Linked DNA regions of Homo sapiens. Each later gene encodes a partner of the first gene's protein in a complex. Each region holds a gene or a part of one and is shown on either strand. Other genes may lie near its edges. The genes, in order: XPR1 and KIDINS220.

The links.
Region 2: the proteins of XPR1 (region 1) and KIDINS220 are in contact, whole or in part, in a cryo-EM structure (PDB 9JXQ), measured with the Homo sapiens proteins. Residues at the interface, in NP_004727.2 of Homo sapiens: Leu95, Lys189, Lys190, Gln193, Glu197, Ala200, Asn204, Glu205, Ala636, Asp637, Asp638, Leu641, Leu642, Gln644, Met645, Met646, Asp647, Gln648, Asp649, Asp650, Val652, Arg653, Asn654, Arg655; in NP_065789.1 of Homo sapiens: Glu36, Cys37, Gln39, Asp70, Trp72, Met102, Trp105, Trp110, Tyr113, Lys114, Val138, Ile142, Trp143, Gly146, Arg147, Ser166, Asp167, Lys168, Tyr169, Gly170, Trp176, Arg179, Lys180, Gln198, Glu199, Gly200, Ala201, Ser203, Lys234, Arg267.

What each region holds. Positions count from the first base shown.
Region 1 is NC_000001.11:180,627,120-180,635,152, forward strand, and holds the start of XPR1 (solute carrier family 53 member 1), read left to right. Parts: upstream 1-4,902; 5' UTR 4,903-5,082; coding exon 5,083-5,151; intron 5,152-8,033. UniProt on the Homo sapiens protein: Inorganic ion transporter that mediates phosphate ion export across plasma membrane.
Region 2 is NC_000002.12:8,834,357-8,841,483, forward strand, and holds the start of KIDINS220 (kinase D-interacting substrate of 220 kDa), read right to left. Parts: upstream 3,258-7,127; 5' UTR 3,124-3,257; intron 1-3,123. UniProt on the Homo sapiens protein: Promotes a prolonged MAP-kinase signaling by neurotrophins through activation of a Rap1-dependent mechanism. Provides a docking site for the CRKL-C3G complex, resulting in Rap1-dependent sustained ERK activation.

The DNA.
Region 1 (8,033 bases):
ACATTTGACATTGTTGATCACTGCCTCCTTTATGAAATTTTCATCTTTTTATGGCTTCCTTGACACTACTCTCTCCTGATAGTCTTGCTGCCCACCCTGACTACATCTCAGCCTCCCTCCTTGACCCATCTTCTTTATCAGGCTCACGGGAGGATGTTCCCTTGGGCTCTTTTCCTTTTCACTCTATTCTCTCTCTCGGCAGATTTGCCAGACTTAATTATCACTTAAATGCAAATGGTTCCTCAGTTTTCAGTCTTAACTTCTCTTTCTAGAGCTCTAGATCAGTATTTCCAACTGGAGTACTGCATGTTCCATTGATTCCTTCATATTTCCCACATCTCATGGAACCCCAGACCTGCTCTCTACTTTCATTTCTCATCTCAGTTCATGACAGCAGCATCTACCCAATCACTACAGTTAGAGTCACACGTCACATCTTCTTCTGTCCATGATCCTGATTGGCTGGAGCTGTTGCATCCACAGTCAGTATAATACTCATAGCACTCAAGAGCAAGGACTCTGCATCTGGGTTGCCAGGGCTCAGACCCAGGTCTATTACTCACTAGGGGGGTGCTCTTGAGTAAGATGCTTAACCTCTATGTCTAACTTTACTCATCTATAAAATGAAGATAACAATAGTAGCTACTTCTTAGAGTTCTTGTGAAGATTAAATACATTTATATTTGTAAAGTGCTTAGAACAGTGCCTGGCACATCATAAGTGTTACATAGCTGCTTGTTAATAAGTTGGTCTTGAGTTTGTCCCTGCCCTAGTCCATCCTTCACACTGCTGACAGATGTTTTTGAGGGGTTACCAATTTTTATGTTAAATCAGGGGCCAGTCATTATGTTAAGTGTTTTATATGGAGAATCTCATTTAATTCTCCAAACAACTTGTGAGGGAGGTGTGATAATACCCATTTAAGAGAGGAGGAAACTGGGGCTTTAAGAGCTAGTGCACTTTGCCGAAGGTCACATAGTTTGTAAATGCCAGAGTTGGGATTTTAATTCAGGCCTGTTTACTCCCAGAGCTAGTGCTCAAAACCAGGAAGCTACGCTAGCCTGCTTTTCCAAACCTAAGTTAGTCACTCACTGCTTAACCTTCTTCAAAGACCTCACACTGCCTATGCCGTCAGGAACTATTCCTTCACAATCTTGTTGCAACTTAACTTTATTTCCTACAACTTTACTCCATGGGGCTTCCTGTTTCCTTCTTCCTTCTCCCTCTGTTGGCCTCTTTTCCTTTGTTCCTTCAACCTTTATTGAATGCCTGAGTGCCAGGCACTGTGCTAAATTGGAGAAAACAAGAGACGAGCAGTTTATCTTCAAGGACCTCATAGTCTGATACAAACTATTATTGACAATACAGTAAGGGGAGTGCACTCAGGCAATGTGGGAGCCAGACTGGGAAGACAAGGGACAGGAGCAGGGAGAGTGTATTAGTCCGTTTTCATGCTGCTAATAAAGACATACCCAAGATTAGATAACTTATAAAGGAAAAGAGGTTTAATGGACTCACAGTTCCACATGGCTAGGGAGGCTTCACAATCATGGTGGAATGTGAAGAAGGAGCAAAGGCATGTCTTATGTGGCAGCAGGCAAGAGAGTATGTGCAGGGGAGCTGTCCTTTATAAAACCATCAGATCTCATGAGACTTATCCACTATCACAAGAACAGCATGGGAAAACCTGCCTTCATGATTCAATTACTTGCCACCAGGTCCCTCCCAAGACATATGGGGATTATGGGAACTAAGAGTCAAGATAAGATTTGGGTGGGGACACAGCCAAACTGTATCAGACCGTTTCTTTGAGAGGGGACATTTGGCTGCCTTAAAGGATACTCTGGTCAGAAAATTTCTTGTCATTCTTTAACAATTCTGACTTTGCCTTTTGCCTTAGGGAATCTTTGGGGTGTCTTTTTCCCTGTCAGATGATTGACTAAGACTGGATTTCAAAATCAGCTTCTCTGATCCTTGGATGTTTGTTTCTTTACACATATGTCAATTATAGCATGTATCGCACTGTAGCCTAAGAGCTATTGGTCTACCTGCCCATCTTTTTTTTTTTTGTTTGAGAGAGAGAGTCTTGCTCTGTCTCCCAGGCTGGAGTGCAGTGGTGCAATCTCGGCTCACTGCAACCTCTGCCTCCTGAGTTCAAGTGATTCTCATGCCTCAGCCTCCTGAGTAGCTGGGATTACAGGCATGTGCCACCAGGCCTGGATAATTTTTTTTTTTTTTGTATGTTTAGTAGAGATGGGTTTTCACCATGTTGGCCAGGCTGGTCTTGAACTCCTGACCTCAAATGATCCACCCACCTCGGCCTCTCAAAGTGCTGGGATTACAGGTGTGAACCGTCATGCCTGGCCCCATCTTTTTGACTAAATTGTGATTTCCTCCAAGGAAAAAACAGAGTCTTAATTTATTTTTGAACGGTCCTTCATTCCTAAAGTGACATAACCGGAATATCATAGGTCTCAATAAAGTTTTGTTAAATGAAGGGTTGCTTGCCTATTCACAAAAGAAAGTATAAGTCAGGGGGCTCTTCTGATTCAGAGTAAATAAGAGAGTCGGTGTTCCATAATTACTAAGTATTTGATGGTTCTATCAGTAAAATACCCAAAAATAACGCTGGGAATGAGGAAATGTATTTATTTACTTATTTTGAGACGGGGTCTTGCTCTGTTACCCAGGCTGGAGTGCAGTGGTGCAATCTTGGCTCACTGCAACCTCCACCTCCCGGGTTCAAGTGATTCTCTCACCTTAGCCTCCTGAGTAGCTGGGACTACAGGTGTGCACCGCCATGCCCGGCTAATTTTTGTATGTTTAGTAGAGATGGGGTTTCCCCATGTTGGGCAGGCTAGTCTTGAACTCCTGACCTCAGGTGATCCTCCCGCCTCGGCCTCCCAAAGTGCTGGGATTACAGGCGTGAGTTACTGTGCCTGGCAGGAAATTTATTATTAAATCTACTTCTGTGGATAAATTAAGTTGTCATGTCCTGGGTGGCAGGGCTCTGGATCAGGCATGAGAAAAATCAAGAATTTTAGAGCTAGTTTTGAGGGTTTCCTTACTTTCTTGGGTTGGGCCATGGTTCCAGAATTTTGTGCACAATTAAGGCATAGAGGTACGGTGCTGCTGGGAGCAGTGTGCCATGGTCCACCAGGGTTGCTACTAAGAATTTCCCATTCTAGTCCATGACTGGCTAAAGGCAGGAATCTCTTTTGTAGCTGTCCCTGGTTCCCTTTTCCCAGGCACAACATACAGCCATTTCCTTTCTGTGGTCTCGCCTCCTTCCTGGTAGCACACATATTCCTTTTTGCCTGTCTCTTTCTCCTGGCAAGGTTTACCTCCAGCAGAGGGGAATCTTTATGGTGAGCAGACGGAGGTCTGAGGTGAGAGGAGTCCTCACTCTTCTTTCTTTATTTTTTTGACCTTGATTACCCTTTCACCAGAGGTTAAGGCTTTTATACAGAAAAAGCCAGAAAGACTCATAGTCTATGCCTATTTTCCATCTTGTGTCATCCCTCTCCTGGGGAAATGATTGCAGAATCCCTATTGGCATGAATTAAGGGGAAGAGAAAGGGGAAAAAAGTACATGGAGAAAAAAAGACAACAGCAGAGAATGATATCTCAGAGCACTGCTCCAGGCATAGCAGTTCCCTAGTAAATCTTGAAATCTCATCAAAATTGTGAGGGTTAGGCTGAGCAAGGTGGCTCATGCCTGTAATTCCAGCACTTTAGGAGGCCTAGGTGGGAGGACTGTTTTAGCTCAGGAGCTCAAGACCAGCCTGGGCAACATAGCAAGACCCACATCTCTCCCAAAAATAAACAAAAAAATTAGTTTGGCATAATGGCATGTGCCTGTAGTCCCAGCTACTCAGGGGGCTGAGGTGGGAGGATGGCTCACAAACCTATGTGAGGTAAGGCTGCAGTGAACCATGATGGTGTGACTGCACTCCAGCCTGGGCAACAAAGCGAGACCAAAAAAAAAAATGTTAGAATCAAGGGACAAAGTACATGTAAGAGGTTTAGAATAGCACTTGGTACAGGAACAGTGAGTGCTCAATAAATTATTATTAGGTCTCCTCCACCCAGGGTAGGACCTGGGTTTCTGTCCTGAATTGGGACTTCCAAGACAATCACTCCCACACTCAATGTAGTACAGAGCTCTGTGAGTGATCTCTGCCCATGTTCCCCAGGGACACTTCAGCCTGGGTGCTGGGCCTGTTTCCGGTTTTACTGGGGTGGGCTTAGAGCTGTACTTCTACGGGGTTCTCTTTCCTCTCAACGTTGGTTTCCCTCCCAACCCTCACCCCCAACCCCAGGAAGCTCAGTTTACAAGTGCGGTCGGTACCCTCATTTGGTGTTTTTATTGGCTTTTCTGATAGCCCCTGGACTAGACAATTACATTGAAATTCAGAAGCAGCATGCACTTTTTGGCATTGATGTCTTTAATTAAATTCAATAAGCACTTATTGAGCACCTAGAGTGTGTAAAATACTGTTCCTTTAAATACATTTAGTCCTGAACTGTTTTAGCTTCTTAGTTTGGATTAGTGCTGATCCATTTCTTAAAGGTTTTATGAAGCATAAATATCAAAATGGAAAAATATTTGCACAGTTCTTTGTAAATATAAACGTCTTGTGTGGATTATTGTTGCTACAGTATTAATATTAACTGCAGTAACAACACTGCTGCTTCCCAGACAGGCGGTAGAAAGCAGCTGTAGGCCAACAGGAGCCAGACTGAAGAGATCCAGGGAGGTGCCTCCAGCACGTACGGCCCACAAGGGGCGGAGTCTTAAGAAGCGTACCCAAGCCCCACCCCTTACAGCACCCCCTTCGTCAGGGCGGTGTAGGCGGTTACCATGGCGATGACGTCCAGAGGGCGGGGAGGGGCGGGGCTATGGAGAGGAGGAGGAAGATGGCGGGCGGGCTGCTCTGAAGAGACCTCGGCGGCGGCGGAGGAGGAGAGAAGCGCAGCGCCGCGCCGCGCCGGGGCCCATGTGGGGAGGAGTCGGAGTCGCTGTTGCCGCCGCCGCCTGTAGCTGCTGGACCCGAGTGGGAGTGAGGGGGAAACGGCAGGATGAAGTTCGCCGAGCACCTCTCCGCGCACATCACTCCCGAGTGGAGGAAGCAATACATCCAGTATGAGGTACCGGCACGGCTGGGGTGTGGGAGGACTCGGAGGGGCCACCATCTCGCCAGTCCTGACGTCCACCGCCGCCTTCCGCTTCAGCTGGCTCCCTGTGCCCGGGCAGACTTTGACCCGCTGCCGCGGGGAGCCACTGCGGCATCCCCGCCGCGGCCGGCCGCCTCCCGGCTCCGCTGTCCTTCCCCTCCCCCGCAGCCCCGCTGCCGCCGGGGTAACGGATATGCAGGCGGAGGGCCGGGAGGAAAGGCGCTGCCCGGGCCGGGGCCGGGGCCGGGGAACGGTGGGAGGGTGAGCTGCAGGTGGGGGAGTCACGGTGCGAGGGCAGCCCCGGGTCGCGGCTGTTCCGCGCTAATCCCCTTCTCCCCACTCGCCCTGACCTCTCGTCCCCACCCTGGGCGAGCGCCCCCTCGCCAAGGTTAGGTCTTGTTTCTCTCTCTACACCTCTCACCAAGGAATCCTTGTCTTCCAAGAGAAGCCCCTCCAGTGATTTCCTTCATTCCAAAGAGCCCTTCGGCTTTTTCCCACTTGCCCACTGTTGACAAAGGCTTTGTAACGGGGTTGAAACTTGACTTAAGTGTGTATCACATATGTAGTGGTTATAGTTTTTGTAAACACGTTGTAATCAACTATTCTGCTTTGATAATAAGACTCTTTTTACTGATTGCATGAAGTCTACAGAGTAATAACATCTTTGTTTTTGCCTCTTGTTTTGGAATGGAGGGAAGAGAAAGGAGAGAAGAGAATTATTAACATTTTTTTATTTTCTGCTAAGTTTTTGCTAGCTGGGGAGAAAATTAGTATATTGTAAACAATATACCTTACCTGTGTATTACAGAAATCATGCTCCCCATTCCCTCCCAATTTCTGTGCTAACACTGCTGGAAGGTATTTAATAGATAATAAGGAACCTTACATTAATAAAGGGAAAAATAAAGATAATGAACCCATTTATATGTTCAGAAGACAAGATACCTAAGAGGCTTTAAGCATTGCAATAGGTTATTCTCAGTAGCTGGCAATTCAGCTCCTGGATAGAGAAAGACAGACTTATCTGTAACCTCCAGGAATTCACATCTGTTTTGTGTGCAGGAACAAAGAATATAAAATCAATATGAACACACATAACTTAGCTAGATTTTATGAATTAAACTATTTTAGTTCTCCATTTAATTTTTATATAAGTTTAGTGATAGGAGGTTTGGGCAATAGCAGTGAGTGTATTTATTCATATAGCCATTGTAATAATTGAAGAAGACAGGGAAAGAGATGCAGGTAGGTTAAACGGAATCTTGAATATTGTGAAATAAATTCACTTGCAACCTAGAGTATTTCATTATTGCTAGAAATGAAAGGCCTATAATTATTAATGCTTTATTGTCACTCAATTTCTTACAGTATTTTGTGGCCATGTTTTGTAAGAATGAGTGAAATAAGGGACTAACATTTCAGCCTGCAGAGTTGATTTATTGTTTCTAATAACATTTAGTTTTAAAACCTTGGCTAGAATCCAAGTGATGGTTTTTATTGAAAGAAGGGTATTGGTCTTTCATCTTTCTAGTAGTAATTTTCAGCACCACTGCCAGTTCTTCACAGAGGCACAGGATAGGAGCATGCTGAAGCACATCTTATATTTGTTATGTAGCATGGAATGCTTTGGGCAGAAGTAATAGTGGCTGGATGTATGCCATGATTCATTTTAGGTATTTCGACACTTAACTATTTCATGGAATTGTATTAATTTGCAATATCTGGGGCTGGAAGGAGAAGCATACGATTTAGTTTGAAAATGCAACCCTCTTAATTTGTAATGTCAGTTTTGTGGCTGGAGAACCACATTGATTCTGGGACTCCTCATTCACATAGTCCACTTGGATACTGTTCCTAAATGTTTACTGTAGGTTGGTCACAGAGGGGCAAAATTCCTGAGATTATGTTGTGTCTGCATTATCTTTCTCAGGGCAGTTATAAATTATGTTTTGAAAAATTCGTTTATTGTGGATAATTGAAATTTGATTCTGCGGAGAGTTCCTACTATATGGCTCCTGTCCTAGATAAACTCATTGTTTGGTAGACAAAATTAAATGAGGCGCACTTTTCTTTGTAAGTTGGAATCAACCAATATTTTATAGGGTTGGAATCTTGTTTTGTGTGTTGTTTCTGAAGAGTTGGTGCTATTCCTTTAAAAGTAATAGAGAGATGTAAATAAGAGTCTTTAGAGTCCAGGAATTTTAGCAGTTTAAAACTTTGGGGAAAAAGGACATCCATAAAAATTCTCTAGAGAAAAGGACCTTTTCATAATGAATTAAATTGTAGTTTCTCATATGAAGATGATGCTCTTAAAATGCTATCAGTAGAACAGATGCTGGGATTTGTTTTTCAAGCACTGGTGGTGAAATTTTTGTATTTTACCCTTGGTTTCTAGCCTAGGGTGCTTTCTAGTATCGTGAATCAATGTGAACTGTTCAGCTTCTTTGGTTTTTGTGTCATTTTGCTATATTAAATATTACTTGAAATAAGCAGAGAATTAGAATCTGAAAATTTTGTTTTACATCTGTAATTATATTTAATTATATATAATATGTATATATTGTAGCACAGTAAATACTAGTTTTTGTATGTGTTAGCCATGAGACCTGGGGACAATCTTTTTTGCCTTTCCCGGGCTCGCTCTTCTTCCATAAAGTAAGTATATAGGGCCAGAGCTTTTCAAGGTCCATTATAGGTCATGTTTTTGATTTAACTTTTAATGGCTTTTATTCCTTGAACTGATAAAATTATTAATGATAATAACCCATCAATATCCTGAAAATTATTATGTTTTTTAATTTAAAAATAAGTTGTGGTGTTCATAGATTCAGTCTTCATAGGCAGAATAATAAAGC
Region 2 (7,127 bases), on another chromosome or scaffold:
CTTGACTCTACTCAGGCCACAGTGACTTTCTGTACATACGTCACCTGATCAGAGCTTCTCTGACCACCGTGTATAAATGGTGTATACCATTTATACGTGTATAAAACAGCCCTCTCCCCCTCTACTATATCCCCCTTCCACAGCCCTACTTTAAAGGTCTTCTTTATAACACCTAGCATCACTCCACATACCACATACTTTGTTTTTGGTCTGCTTCCCCTAGCCAAACAAATGTAGCTCAATGAGAATAAAGACTATCTGTTTTGTTTACTGCTGAATCTCCAGCACTTAAGAGAAGTGCCTGGTACACCACAGAACCCAGTATCGGTAGAATGAATGGACATGCCCAAGCTGATCCAACCACCTGTAATGCCTGACCCAACTTTAACATTCTTAACAAGCCAAAACACACCCTTCAAAACCCCCCTCGCGGGTCACCTATAAACTAACTTATGTATGTATATGTATGTATGTATGTATGTATTTAGTTATTTATTTTTATTGAGACAGGGTCTGGCTCTATTGCCCAGGATGGAGTGCAGTGGCACATTCATAGCTCACTGCAGACTCAAACTCCTGGACTCAAGCGATCCTCCTGCCTCACCCTCCCTGAATAGCTGGGACTACAGGTGCATGCCAACACACCCAGATCATTGTTTACATTTTTAATTTTTGTAGAGACAGGACTTGCTATATTGCCGAGGCTGCTCTTGAACTCCTAGCCTGAAGTGATCCTCCTGCCTTAGCCTCCCAAAGCACTGAGATTACAGGTGTGAGCCTGCATGCCCAGCCTTGAACTAATTTATTAAGGGCTGTCTCTCTCCTTCATTCTTACATCCCCAGAACCTATTACAGATCTAGAACAGGTAGAAACTTAATAGATAACCATCAAATTAAATAACTGCATAGGTATGCTAAAGATACCTCTTCTGAAGGACTTTGCCCACCCACAGCCCCTGCTACCCTCAACAGCCATGTTCTCTAGCATCAGCCATTCCCAGGGATGGGCATATGATCTGTGGCATGAAACTGTTGAAAAAGATAAGCTGGGCCAATCAGACTTCTCTCTCTAGAACTGGGAATTAGAAACCAGAGACTGGGCCAATCAATATGGGTCACACATAAAATGATACAGTTCTGAGACAGCCAATCAGCAAAGAGAGAATACAACAGATATGAACAGAAAAGAGACTCCTCCTAAGTAAGAGAACAAATGTGGCCCCTAAGAGGAGGTCAGGGCTGCAGTGAGCCAAGATCACACCACCTGCACTCCAGCCTGGGCAACAGAGCCAGACCCTGTCTCAAAAAAAAAAAAAAAAAAAAAAAGTTGCCCCAGGGAGATGTAGAAAATGGAGGTACCTGGGATCCTGACTTCTTTCTGACTCTCATTCAATCCTATTATCTCCTTTTCCTTGAAGTAAAAGGTTTAAGTTTCTACTGTCTTCTAAACAGCCCTGACAAATACAGTAGCACATAAAATGGAGAAACTGACCGTTCTTGAGCAAAAGCAGGAAGAAGGGGATGGCACATTCATACATGATCCTATAAAAATTAATCTGGCAGTGTATGTGACCCAGACTGGAAAAATACAAAGAATCAGGGCCCTAGATACCAGTCAAGGAATCACCAGACAGTACACAAGAGAGGCAGTGGGAATAGAGAAGAAATGAGGGATATTAACTTGAAAAATATAAAATCCCTGACATTTGAACTTTCTGAACTACCAAAATATCCAGAAGAGATATTCTGGATATAAAGATAAAACTATGTGACTGGTTGGAAAAGAAAACAGGTGGAAGATGACCAGATGCCCAGCATAGGTGACTGAAGAATGGAGCTGCCCTTAACCAAAAAAAAAAAAGCAGGAGAAAGAGCAGACTTTTCTCTACTTAAGTTATGCCTCCTCCCTTCCACCACCCCAGCTGGGCGAATGGGGCTTTGGCCAGGCTGAATTTGAAGTGTCCCAAAAGAACTAGGTTGGAGAAACCCACCCAATACTTGGAAAAAGATACCGTTCACACTGTGTGTGAATGATCTGGAAATTATTCACACAAAGGGTGTAGAACAAGGATTCTCAAACTTGTGTGCACCAAAATTATTTGGGAAGCTTGTCAAATACACATATCCCTTGAGCTCCTCCCCGGGAGAATCCCATTCCCTAGATCTGGGGTGGTGCCCAGAAACTGACATTTTAACAAGCACCCCAAAATGATTCTGATGAAAGTAGTCCATGCTAGTAAAGCTAGAAGAGAACAAAGAACACACCTGGCCACGGCATTTCCCAACCTGGGCTCTGCACTCAATACCCCACGGTGGTTTAAAAAGGTGTAGATGTCTGGTCCTCAGTGTTGTCAAAATGTGGACAGGAACGAACCTGAAGGGGTGATTCCCGAGCCACACCTCAGGCCGAAGGAATGGGAATCTCTAAAACGCTAAGAAATCTACATTTTTAACAAGCGCCCATAGGGAGCAGAGATGGCTGCATAGTTATTCATAAAAAAATTTTTCATCGGTTTAAACCTGTCAACTTGAAAGAATAAAAATTCCAACATTACAAAGTGATGAAGAAATTATTTCCCTATAAATAAATCTTGGAGGCGTGGAAATCAATGGCTTGCACTATTTTGCCAGGCGTTTAAAAGCCTGCACAGGACAATGGAGCAATGGAGCCCACGATAAAAGCAAGGGAGAAAACAACACCTCCCGGCCCGTGGAAGCCTAGGAGGAGGAACCTAGAAAGACTAGCGGTACCAGCTAAGGGGGCTCTCAAGGTGGTGGATGTGCCAGAGGCTGCTTGGCAAAAGAAAAAAAACGGTTTTACCAACACCCTTCACCCCAACCCACCCGAGGGGCCCCTCAGGAGACAGACCACCAGAGACTCCAAGGTCGGAGACCTTCCCGGCGCTCCAGGAAACGCGGACTCGCCCCGAAAGCCGGGGCCCGAGCGTCCGGGGCCCGCGCCATGCCCTCCCCGGGACCCCCGGTCCGAGCTCGCCCCTTCCGCGCACTCCTCGGCTGTCCCACCTCCCCGCCCGACTCCCCGAGCCCGGCCTCGCCCCCGACTCCTCCCCAATCCCGCGGCAAAGCTTCGCGGACCGGCCTCCACACTGACGGTCTCCCAACCTGGTCCTCAGCTCCGGCGGAACGGGCCCGCTCGGCTGCAGGCGATGTCAGAGGACGGGGAAGCAAGAGACGGCGACTGCAAGCGCGTCGCCCTCACCACACCCGGCGGCCATATTCTTCCCTCTCCGCGAACTGACAGATCACGTGCCCTGGGTAGGGGAGGGACTCCGGGTTGCCACGCCCCCTGGGCGTGGAGGGGAGGGGCGGGGCGGGGCGTAGAGCAGGCGGGGCTGGAGGGGCCGCGGGGCGGGGACACCCAGGACAAGCGCCCCAGGCAAGGTTTTTCAGTGTCAATGTCACTCTTATTACAGTTAATTTATTATCCCTATTTTCCATTATAATCAAGCTTATTCAGAGAAATAAACATCAATTATATCTTCAGAAGAAACTGCACATACATAAGAAATGAAAGCCCGCTCAGCAGCCTTCTTCCGGATCCAGGAGCGAGACCTCTGCCTTTCGCGGGGCCTGTAGTTCACACTCCTTCCAGGTCTCCCAGCACCTCCCCTCACCTCCTTCAGCCTCCACATTCCTAGGCCTTGCTGCCAACAAGCGTCAATCTTGATTTTTGAAAAGGTCCAAGGATGATTACGACGTGCGTAGGTTGCGAACCATCGAAAAGCACCCACCAATGTGTCAACCTGGCAACTCAGGAAAAAGCCAATAAGGAGCCTGACTTCATCAGAAGTTGGTGCGGGGTGGGGACAATGGCTCACTCCTGTAATCCCAGCATTTTGGGAGGCCAAGACGGAGGATCACTTGAGCTCAGGAGTTTGAAACCAGCCTGGGCAACATGGAGAGACCTCTTCTCTACAAAAAAAAAAAAAAAAAAAAAAAATACAAAAATACAAAACTTAGCCAGGCGTGGTGTTGCACACCTGTAGTCCCAGCCACTTAGGAGACAGAGGTGAGAGGATCACTTGAGCCCAGGAGTTCGAGGCTGCAGTGAGCTGAGATCACACCACTGCACTTCAGCCAGGGCAACAGGGCAAGATCCTATCTCCAAACAAACAAACAAACAAACAAAAACGGAAGTTGGTGTGCCCCTCATGAAACAAGGAGCGAACACCCCAACGTGTACAGTGGAGTCCTAAATGGTGTGATTTCTTCGATAATGACTTGCTAAGGCCAGCCACTGTTGTAAACAGGGCAGGGTGGGTCAGGCGTTGGGGGTTAGAAGTATGGTAGGTGTATTAGCCCGTTTTCACACTGCTATAAAGAACCACCTGAGACAGGGTAATTTATAAAGAAAAGAGGTTTAATTGACTCACAGTTCTGCATGGCTGGAGAAGCCTCAGGAAACTTAAAATCATGGCGGAAAGGGAAGCAAACACGTCCTTCGTCACATGGCTGCAGGAAGAGAGGTGCCCAGCAAAAGGGTCAAAAGCCCCTTTTACATCCAACAGATCTCGTGAGAATTCACTCACTATCACGAGAACAGCACGGGGGAAACCGCTGACGTGATCCAATCACCCCCGACCAAGTCCCTCCCTTGACACGTGGGGATTATGGGGAATACAATTCGAGATGAGATTTGGGTGGGGTCACAGAGCCAAACCATATCAGTAGGATATAAGGATGAAGCCAACCTTAGAGTAGGGGAGAAGACAAGGAAACAGGTTAAATGTGCGTTATTTAGCACAGCCTTTCTGAGTCCTGACCATGTCCTAGGCACAGTGCAGTAAGGAGGTAAGCACAGAGGATGGAGTTACCAACTCTGCTTGGGGTCCACTAGGAAGGTTCACAAAAGAAGGGACCCCCCCCCCCCGCACCTCCAGCTGTATCTGAAGTATAGTTTGTCCATCACATCAGTTGGATGGGGCTAGGAAGAATGTCCAGGTCGGGGAACAACACTTTGGAAAAGAATAGAGATGAGAAGGAGGGTGGCCCAAAGTTCCAGGAACTGTCAATATTTGCCAGCCTTGGGGCTGGGGTGGCAGCATGGGAGGGGGCAGTAGATGGAGCAGGGGTCAGCCTCTGAAGGGCCTTGAGTGTTAAGTACCATTTGGGAATTTGTTCTAGGGAAATAGAAGGCCACTGAAGGGATTAGAAGAGTATCAAATTTGTCCTATGGAAATAGAAGGCTGCCTCCCCCAGCATCCACTACCCTTCCCACCACCCCCCAACCCCATCTTTCCTCAGCCTCCAGCTGTTTCCCTCAATCCCCTCCATCCTCCTCTTATCCTCTCACTGCTTCCTCCACCCTCTGCCCCCACATCCTCCCCCAACTCTCCCCACACCCCTCTTCCTCCCATCCCCCCCTCTGTCCTCCCGTCTTCCTCCAGCCACCCAAGCCTCTCCAATCCTCCCACCACTTCCCCTAGTCCTCCTTCTGTCCTCCCTCATCCTCTTCCCTCCCTCTCTTGGTAGCACAGTTTAGCACTCCCTCCTGGAAATATTTCTTTTTTTTTTTTTTGGAGACAGAGTCTCGTTCTGTTGCCCAGGCTGGAGTGCAGTGGTGCGATCTCAACTCACTGCAAGCTCTACCTCCCGGATTCACGCCATTCTCCTGCCTCAGCCTCCCGAGTAGCTGGGACTACAGGCGCCCGCCACCGCGGTCGGTTAATTTTTTGTATATTTAGTAGAGACGGGGTTTCATCGTGTTAGCCAGGATGGTCTCGATCTCCTGACCTCATGATCCGCCCGCCTCAGCCTCCCAAAGTGCTGGGATTACAGGCGTGAGCCACCGCGCCCGGCCCCCTCCTGGAAATATTTCTTCTCCTGGGCTTCTATCCCATTCTTCTGGCAGCTCCTTCTCAGATTCCACCTCCCATGAATTGTTGGGGTTGCAGAGTTCTGTCCCCACTGGACTCACCCATACCCCTCCCACCCACCCTTGCTCCTGCGTCACTAGTTTCAGAGACCTGGCTCCAACCCTAACCACCAAAACCGGAAGTTGGAAGTCATCTTCCCCCTGATTAAATGGTCAGTTAATCAGCCCATCACCTGACTGTAGCCACTTTCATCCCAGTGATCTGTTTAAAGGCCTCAGAGCTCCCAACCGGGACTATCCGAATACCCCCAGCAACTCTCCCTGCTAACCCAGTAGCCCTGCTAACCATTTCTCCACAAGCTTGCCAGCTAATGCCACTTCTTTCATTAAACTCTTCAGTGGCCTTCTGTTTCCCCAGAACAAATTCCCAAATGGTACTTAACACTCGAGGCTCTTCAGAGGCTGGCCCTGCTCTGTTTCCTGCCCCCTCCCACGCTGCTACTCCCACCCCAAGGCTGGTAAATATTGACAGTTCCTGGAACTTTGAGCCGTGCTCCTTCTCATCTCCATTCTTTTCCAAAGTGATGTTCTCCAACCTGGACATTCTTCCTAGCCTCATCCAACCGAATGTGATGGGCAAATTCTATTTAAGATACAGCAGAGGGGGTCACCTCTTTTGTGAACCTTCCTAGTGGACCCCCACAGAGTTGGCCATTTCATTCTCCGTGCTTATCTTCGTACTGCACAGTGCCTGGGACAGTGTCAGGACTCAGAAAGGCTGTGTTAAAGAAGGCACATTTAATCTCTGTCCTTGTTCTCTCCCCGACTCTAAGGTCGACTTCATCCTTATATCCCACCATACCTCCGACACCCCCTCCTCCACCCCGCCCTGTTTACAAGAGTGGCTGCCCTTAGCAAAGCCATTACCAAAGAAATCACACCATTTAGGTCTTCATTGTATGTGTGGGGGTATTCTCTCCTTGTTTCATGAGGGTATGAACCCAAAATATCTGAGACAGTCTCAGTCAATTAAGAAAGTTTATTTTGCCAATGCTAAGGAGCACCCGTGACATACTCTCAGGCAGTCCTAAGGACATGTGCCCAGGGGGATCAGGGTACAGCTTGCTTTTAAACATGTTAGGGATGCATAACACATCAATCCATACATGTAAGATTTACATTGGTTCCATCTGGAAGGGCGGGACAGCTGGAAGGGAGGGGGTGCTTCCAGGTCATAGGTAGATTTAAAATTTCTCTGATTGGCAATTGGTTGAAAGAGTTATTATCAGTA